2 separate regions of the Homo sapiens genome follow, and region 2 is linked to region 1. Evidence: fine-mapped expression QTL. A gene starts in region 1. The other region holds a variant in brackets. All regions are shown on one strand. Distances are between the middles of the regions.

The links. PIP is the estimated chance that this variant, and not a neighbour inherited with it, causes the effect. A credible set is the group of variants that fine-mapping cannot tell apart.
Region 2: its variant is the best candidate, but not a certain one, in a credible set for the expression of CCN4 in lung (TOPMed, PIP 0.51).

Annotation. Positions count from the first base shown.
Region 1 is chr8:133,188,403-133,192,789 of GRCh38, reverse strand. CCN4 (cellular communication network factor 4) reads right to left here and starts at 1,751. Exons shown (of 5, transcript NM_003882.4): 1 at 1,577-1,751. The coding sequence starts at 1,645. RefSeq lists a silencer at 632-879.
Region 2 is chr8:133,003,200-133,007,586 of GRCh38, reverse strand. All of the region lies in intron 35 of TG (thyroglobulin), which reads right to left. Among named protein-coding and RNA genes, the nearest start is that of MIR7848, 41 kb to the left of the region's middle. The variant G/A (reference allele first, on the strand shown) is at 2,338.

The DNA.
Region 1 (4,387 bases):
ACTCATGCTTAAACCTCTCGCCTCCTCTGCCCACTCAGACTTTGGCTTCTCTCAAACGCTCACCTTTTCTCCATCCTCTCCCTGCCCTCCCAGACATAGCAACCTGCAAAGCTATACCCAAATAAAGGCGCAGCCATACCCAGAGCCGAAATAAACAGCGACTTAGCTCCTTCTGGGCACTCCTGTAGGACACAGTCAGCTTCCCCTAAGTAGGAATGGTTAGAAATTGGCATCAGAAGATCTAAGTTTGGGCCCTGGCCACTTATTAATGAGGAGCTCCTGGGCAAGTCCTTTACTTGCTCTCACTTTCCATTTCTTTCATTTGTGAAATGGAGCTGATAACTTTCTGGTAAGGTGGTTCTGAACCAACTATAGTCAGGCACCATGCCAGGCGTGAGGATTTAACCAAGATGAAACAGACCCACTCCCCGCCATCATTACACACACCGAGGCATTGAGAGGAATTCCTATTTCCCAGGTCTCAGTTTGCTGTCGGCTCTCGGCCTCAGTTCTGGCTGAAGCAGACCTAGAGTCTGATTCTGGCAAGTGGTTTAACCCCAACACACGGTTTCCTTATCTGTGAAGGGGGCTTCTTAACCCCCAAGGAAGCCATCAGTGTCATTTGGGGATAAACACTCTTTTGCCATCACCCCTCCGTCTCTAGGCTGTTCTGCCAGGAGCAGGTCCTGCCCTGGGCTGTGGAATCTGGGGCTCAGAAGCTGCCAGGTACCCACCTCCTGCCCTCCTTGCACTGCCTGCCTCTGCCTTTTCCTCACCATGCCTGGCCCTAGCAGGCTGGCTCTACACGGTCACATATGTGACTCCCCTGGCTTTTGGAGGTGCAGACCTTTGTCCCTTCCCCTTGGTGTACCCTGGGGTGCAGGTGGAAGAGAGAGAGACTCTGGGGTGCCCACATCACCCCCACCCTGGAACAGCAGGCTTCATAGGCAGGACCCAAGTATGGACACTCTGCAGACTGCAGAGGGCTGTGCAGACCGGAGGTGACAGCAGTTGGGGTTAGACATCACCCTGAGCACTGTTTGCTCAATAAGGAGCTTTTGTTGAAAGCTGGCATTTTTCTTTCCAATTTTTTTTGGCTTTTTCCATCTCCCATCTTCGCAGCATCTCCAATGCTTGGAGTCTTGGAGTTTTCAAACTCAGAGACTCTAGAAGTCACCTAACAACTTCGTCGCTTTACGCTGCTCCTGGAGGGTGAGTGACCCACCCGAGGCCACACAGCCAGGTTAGGCGAAGACGGGTCTGGAGCCCGGGCCCCTGACTCCCAGTTCTGCTGAGGGCCCCGTTCTTTCTGCACTGTTTCAGGTGGGGAGAGAGGGCAGGCTGGACCTGTGCAGTTTGTTTCCCCAAGTGTCGCACCGTCCTCCTCACCCTGCCAGCTTCAGCCAACCTGGGCAGCTGACTCCTCACCCTGGGCTCTGTCCTTGCCCTGTAAGTGGCCACCTTCCAGCCCCAAACCTTCCTGGCCCTTTTCATCCTGCCCACCAGCCCCCATGTAGCAGGACCCAGTAGAGAAGGGAGCTGGGTCTCCCTCTGAGCCCCTCCAGGCAGGACTCACCGTGGCCAGGACGGTGCTGGCGGCTGCTGCTGTCACTGCTGCCAGCGTCCAGGGCAGGAACCACCTCATGCCTGGACGTCAGTGGCACAGGCATCGACCGAGCAGCCCAGAGGATCCGACCACCTCTCGGGGGAGCTGGGCCCAGACTGGCCGGCCCATCAGGAGCACCAGATATGCCTCTTCCGCAGCCCTTGGGGGGTTTTATTAAAGCAAGATCTGACGTCAGGGTGAAGGACAAACCCTGCATTTTCCTCTGAAAAAACTTTTCCTGCCTCTCTCTCTTTTTTTTTTTTCTTTCTTCCCTCTGTCCCCACCTCCAGCCTGAGCTTGGCCAGCCTCCCCAGCTCTGACAGTTCTTAAAGGGAAAGTTACAAGGCTATGACTTCACACTAGGGTGTGAAATTCTCACAGAGGAGCTGGGGTCATCCTGCCTAGGTCTTTCACTACTGTAGGGAGGGGGGAGCATGGGAGGGTGCAGGATGTCCGAGGAGATACTGTTACCCCAGGCAGGCGGGTGTGTGGGCTTTGAGAGGGCTCCCAGTGGGAAATCAACTCCCTGTCATTTCTTCAGGCTGCTCCTACTTCTGGTTTTCTTTTTCCTTTTCTTTTTCTTTTTCTTTTCTTTTCTTTTTTTTTTTTTTTTTTTTTTTTTTTGAGACAGAGTCTCGCTCTGTCGGCCAGGCTGGAGTGCAGTGGCGCGATCTCTGCTCACTGCAACCTCTGTCTCCCAGGCTCAAGCAATTCTCCTGCCTCAGCCTCCTGAATAGCTGAGATTACAGGCATGTGCCACCACACCCAGCTGATTTTTGTATTTTTAGTAGAGACGAGGTTTCACCATGTTGGCCAGGCTGGTCTCAAACTCCTGACCTCAGGTAATCCGCCCACATCAGCCTCCCAAAGTGCTGGGATTACAGGCGTGAGGCATTGCGCCCAACCCTACTTCTGGTTTTCATTTGCCCTCTTGCACTCCCCTCTACCTAGCTGCAAGCGAAAGAGGTGGCTTTCAGTCCACCCATCTAGAGATGATAGGAATTCACAAATAAAATGAGCTCTGAGGCTCAGGTTACAGCATCACCTTCATGACACGTGAAAGCCACGGTAACGCATTTGCTGTTTGCCGTCTCTGCTCATTGGTCAGAAGCCGTTTGGTGCTGGAGCTGTCCCCACGTGTCTCTGGATGCTTGCTATCCCTGGGGGGTTGGGTTTCCTGGCCTGTACCCTTATTGCACTGCTGCCACTGAGTCTCTTCCTTGGGCAAGAAAGGAGATGGGATGTCTTCTATGGGCTGTCCTAGTCCAGCCCTGTGCTCCCCATGGGGACCGCTGCCACAGCCTCCTGACTGATACCCAGCCTCCCTGCCCACCTTCTACCATCCACACATCTCAGAGCAATCCTTGAACTAGCGTCATGTATAGATCATCTTCTGGATACAACTGTCCAAAGCCTGCCCATCACACAGCACAGAGTCCCCAGTCCTGGCGTGGCCCCTGGGCCAGCCAGCTCCCTGTACACTTCTTCCTCTCTCCCTTTCGTGCACCATGCCCAACCACAATGGCCTCCTTGCAACTCCTCTCACACCTTGGCAAGTTCTCAGCATCTCCAGGTCTCAGTAGGAATACTCGACACTGAGGTTTAAATGACAGTTACTCCTTCTCTTCTCTTTTCCTGTAGCTTATTAACAAGGGATGCTGAAGCATGTGTGGCTGCTTGGAGGTAGCAGCAGGCTTGTGTTCATGGAAGAGGTTTATGATCCCTATAGACATGACCCCAGAAGAGATGGTGCTCATGATTTCTCCATTTACTGACCTGGGGATGTGCCTCTGATCCAATTCCGGCCAATGAGACATAAGGGAAACCTGCTAGGGTCTTCTAGAAAAGATTCCCTTCCTCAGGAAGAGAATGACCATCTACTCATTCTTTTCTTTCCTTGTGTGCAAATGTGATGGTTGGAGCTGCAGCAGCCATTTTGGGTATATGAGGCTGAGAATAAAAAGTCAACAAATTGAGGATGGCAGAGTGGAAGCAAAAAAAAGGTCTGAGTCGTTGGGACTTCATGTTGTTGTTGGAGCCACCATTCAGACTTCTCATTACATGAAATAATTTAATATTTTATTGTTTAAACTGTAGTTAGTCTGAATTTTCTTTTGTTGGAGTCAAGTTGTATACTAATTGATACATGAGGATTACTAAAATCATATATGTAAAATTAAAGGGCAGGGTATGTGGGGGGCATGTAAGGACTGCCCAATAAATGTCAGTCATTTTCTTCTCATTAATTTATTGATGCTTAAAAACAAATCCCAGGCTGGGCACGGTGGCTCACACCTGTAATCCCAGCACTCTGGGAGGCCGAGGCGGGCAGATCACAAGGTCAGGAGATCGAGACCACCCTGGCTAACACAGTGAAACCCCGTCTCTACTAAAAATATAAAAAATTAGCCAGGCATGGTGGCGGGCACCTGTAGTCCCAGGTACTCGGGAGGCTGAGGCAGGAGAATGGCGTGAACCCTGGAGGCAGAGGTTGCAGTGAGCCGAGATCGCGCCACTGCACTGCAACCTGGGTGACAGAGCAAGACTGTCTCAAAAAACAAAACAAAACAAGCAAACAAACAAAGCAAAAAATAAATCCTAGGAGGCCAGCATTGTTGACAGGTGTCATTAATAAATAACCCAAGGTGTTAGGGGCCAATCTAGGCTCACTTGGCTTTTGATGAACACTAAGTATGAACGGGCTCTGTGCTGTAGAGCATCTCATGACTACAAGGCAGACAGTGTTATGAAATAGGTGGAACACATCTCAGAGATGCTAGA
Region 2 (4,387 bases), 190 kb after region 1:
GGGTCAAGTCCCAAATATAATTTAGACTTGAGTTCTCCAAAAATGAAGCTAATACTAAAAACCTACCTCCACTAAAATACTCAGTCTGGTCTAATTCTAGTTTTTGTTTATCTGGCTGGCTATATTTTTGGTCTGTGTAACAATATCTGGCCCAAGAAAAATTAAAGACTTTAACGGGCACAAAAAAAGCCTTGTAAAAAATCCCCAAACTAATTGATCTACACACTCAATGGAAACAAAAGGACTCCATAAACTTAAAAAAAAATTTAAAAACACATTAAAAAAACTTACAAAGTCAACTCTTGTGTTTTCTTCCGTCCCCGCCTCTCCTCCCCCTTCTCCCGGTCTTACTCCTTCCAGCGCCACTCCAGTCCCATGACATTTCAGACTTAGCATAAAAATAAAGTCCATAATTTTAAAGGCCTAAATTAAAAAGGCTCTGTCTTTTGAACTCTGCCTGCTTTACTAAATTCTTGCAATAAAAAATAAATCATCCCAAACTAAAACAACAAAATACCGGACAGCCAACCTCCAGTCAACACTTCAACAAATATCTCCCTGGGTGACAGGAGTTTACTAAAAAAAAATTAACATAAAAATGGCCAAAATAAAATTGTGAAACCTTAAAACGTGCCAGGTTTTCTGAGATTCCAACTGACTACATATTATGGCCCATTCTAATACACATTTTAAAACCACTGGCCAAATCACATTAAAAAATTCAAAACTGAAATCGTGATTCAAAAAACCTATAACTAAAAAATTAACATCTCATCTTTTAAATTATTTGCCTATTTTTTCCTGTTCAAGTCTACTGGCTTTTCTATTACTATCAAAATACAACTGACTATTCATAATATTAATAGGCTCTTTGTTGTGTGGTTACTTTGAAAACAGGACCAAAACTATATTCCGGTCTAGCAAGGATATGCCTCCACGAGGCAGTAGATTGGAAACCTGCGGTATTAACTAAGTCAGCTGTGTATATTTGTTCTTTCAATCATGTATTCATTCAACAACTATTTACGGGCCTCCTCTGATACTCCAGGACTGTACCTGACAGCCAACGGTGGCAGCCTGGAAAAACAGTCTAAGAAGCCAAAACATTTAAGATGATTCTTACCCGTCCATCGTAGTTCTCAAACTTGGGTGAGCATCAGATTCTCTTGAGAAATGTGACAAGAATTCCAAAGTCCAGGCCCAGTTCTCACTTCAAAGAGCTGGGGCCTCTGTAGTCTATTAACTTTCCTGGTGATTCCGACACACGTCCAAGTTTGAAAATGACTGTGGTCTCTAAGATATCCTTTTTGGTTTTGGTTTTGTTTTGGCCATGATTGCTGGAGACACAGCTTAGGCTAGTGAAGAAACAGTTCTGAGTTCTAAACCTCACTCAGCCTGACACTGTGTGTCCTCAGGCAAGTCCCTTAACTACTCTGAGAAACTCTAATTTTAAAGATCTTTGTGTTACGCATTGCCCTTGTTCATGATCTCTAATAAGCATAATGTCTCTCTGTAGATGACACATGGACCATTGCGTTTGTGGGGTAAATTAATCCATCAGCACCTTTGCTCTGAGGCCCTTGGATCCAGGCCTCAGGAAAGGAGTTCTTTTCCTCCAGTGCAGGGAGAAGATGGAGTAGGAGGGAGAGGTGAGCCGAGAGGAAAGCCGGACAGGTTGGCTCCTACACAGTGACTGTCCTGCCTGGTAAGAAGGGATGCCCTCCATGCTCACTGGCATGCTCCCTAGTGGTGCGAGACCACACAGCCCTCTGCACACCTCCCGGGGAGCCAACGCTGGTTAGAGAATAACATCAGGGCCCCCTTATATTGCCAGAAACCAGAGAAGAGTTGAACACACCCAGCAGCTGACACTAACAATTGGCTATGAGTGTATGTCAAAAATGGGACACAGTAAAGCAGCCAGACTACACTGTGTGACTTTGGGCAAGCCACTCCCCTTCTCTGAGCCTCAGTTTCCTTATCTATAAAATGGTGATATTAAATGACTGTCTCTCCTAGGGTTGTAACCACAAATGAATGAGTTACTAGATGTGAGCTGCTGCCCAGGGGAAATGCTCAGCAAACACAGCCACCTTCACCGTCTCTGGGTCAAGCTACTTGGTTCCTGATGCAGTCTGGACACTGTTTTTTCAAAATGATGGGGCTCTCAGCCTGGATGGAAGTACCAGGGGTGTCCTTTAAGGGGCACAGGAGCCCAAACTACTGCCAGTTATGTCCCCACCAAACATCTGACTCCTGACTTCCACCTGACCCCTCCTCCCCTCGCCCCACTGTCCCCCTGTCCCCCTGTCCCAGGGCAGCTTGCTTCCTGCCCAG[G/A]AGGGCCTCCACAGCCTCTCACCTCCTGCGCAGTGTGCCTGCGGTGCCATGGGCTGGGCCTCAGTTTTCATGGGAAACTTGCTGCTGAATTGCAGCAACATCTATAAACTTCAGTGTTTCAAGGTTTCACGAGCTTAGCAAGTCCCAAAATGAAGCCATTACTGTCCCCCAGTGCTCCTTTTCACTCGTACACCATGTTCTTTCTTTCCTCAGGGAATGTTTCCACCACTCCCTCCATTGTCCAAACCAGAAATCCTATCATCCTTATCGCCTCCTCCCAGTGGAGTCTACATGCTCAGCCCCTCTAGGAACTGTCTTTTCTTTTCCACCTGGTTCTGGCCTCATCAATTTCACTGCAGTTACCATGCAGGCTCCAAACAAGGGCCTCCTGATCATGAGTCTCAGCCCACTCAGGCCATTCTCATGCTGGTGCTGGGATAACCAAAACCGTTCTAACATCCGCATCTGGTCACAGCACTCACCACCTATGGTCCTCCAGGGTACCAGGCAGATGTGTGGTTGGCAGGGTCAGTCACTCCAGCTGCATTGCAACCCTCCACTTTTACAGGGTGGTCCTGTGTGTCCCCTACTCTCACCCACTCACCAAACACAACACACATTCAGAAGTGAAAACAATATCGATTTACAATGTAATTTCAGTTACTTATGTTAACTCGCATTGATCTTCATAACAGATGGGGACACTGAGGCACTGGAGGAAAGACCACAGGATACTCCCCCAGACCATAGAGACACCACCTAAGATTATAGAGGCATCATTCAAGGTTACAGAGGCACCCCCAAGGTTACAGAGGCAGCCCCAGGTCACAGTGCAGAACTTAGTTGAGGTCCTACCAGCAGGACACAGGAACTGTGCTTTTCTTCTGCTGTGCTATATAGTCTTGGATCTCCTCATTGAGGTGGTAATTGACAGATCAGCCCTCATTCCCAGCAGCTAGTAGGCACCTTCCCAGCCCTTATACAGCCCCACAGCATGGTGGTTAAAGGTCTTGGTGACTCTTTCAGTGAGTAGGAGTAGCTCACCAGAAGGCCCTAAGCCTTGGAGGAGAATATGCCCTTGGAAGTAAGAGGCCTTGCCCCTTCCATGGGCAGAGGGGCAACAGTGGCCCTGAAGGAAGAGAGACTCATTGAGGTCATACAGCCTCTTTCCTCTGTGACCAGATAGACTAGCAATGAGTGCTACTATCTATTTAGCAGGTAAGAAGTGCTTAAAAAGTCATGTAAAGATTAACTGGTTCCATCTAATGGTACTTCATTGAGATGAACTGTCCTAACCCTACTTTATAGGAGGGAAAAGTGAGGTTCACAGAGGGCCACTGACTTGCCCAAGACCAAACAGCTGAAAGGCAGGCAGCAAGTCAGTGTTTGCACCCAGGACAGCCCTATATGGTGATACCCCCTGCAAACCAGAGCTGCTGAGGGGACAAGGGCAGAGGAGAAGGAAGGGTCTGGGAGGGATGATGGGGGCAGCAAAGAGGCAGGAGGTGATGGGGGCAGCTTGGGTCACCTCACAACCTGGAGGCAGCACAGCTGCAGTCTCTGCACAGGCGGGCCTCTGGGTGACATGGAGGCACTTCTATTCCTTTCTAGAAAGCACCATATCCCCTTTTTTAAAGCTTAATTTTTATTTTTAACGGACAGATTATAATTATACATATTTATGGGGTATAATACAAGGTTATGATATATGTATATGATGCAGAGGAGTACTTTTTGAGATCTATTACACAGCACAGTGACTATAGTTAACATATGGCACATTTCGAAACTACTAAGAGAATCAATTTCAAATGTTCTCACCACAAAAAAAAAAAAAAATAAGTATCCGAGGGATGGCTGTGTTCATTTGATTGATTTAAGCATTCCACAATGATTCCCTTTTTTAATGGATACTAAGTAGAAAAAAATTATGCTAGAATATATTTGAAATTTTCCATTGATATGTAGATAATCGTGTTTAATTCTCTTTTCTTCCCTCCTTCACTCTCTCCCTCCCTCCTTCCTTATTTCCTTTCTTCTCTTTCTTTTT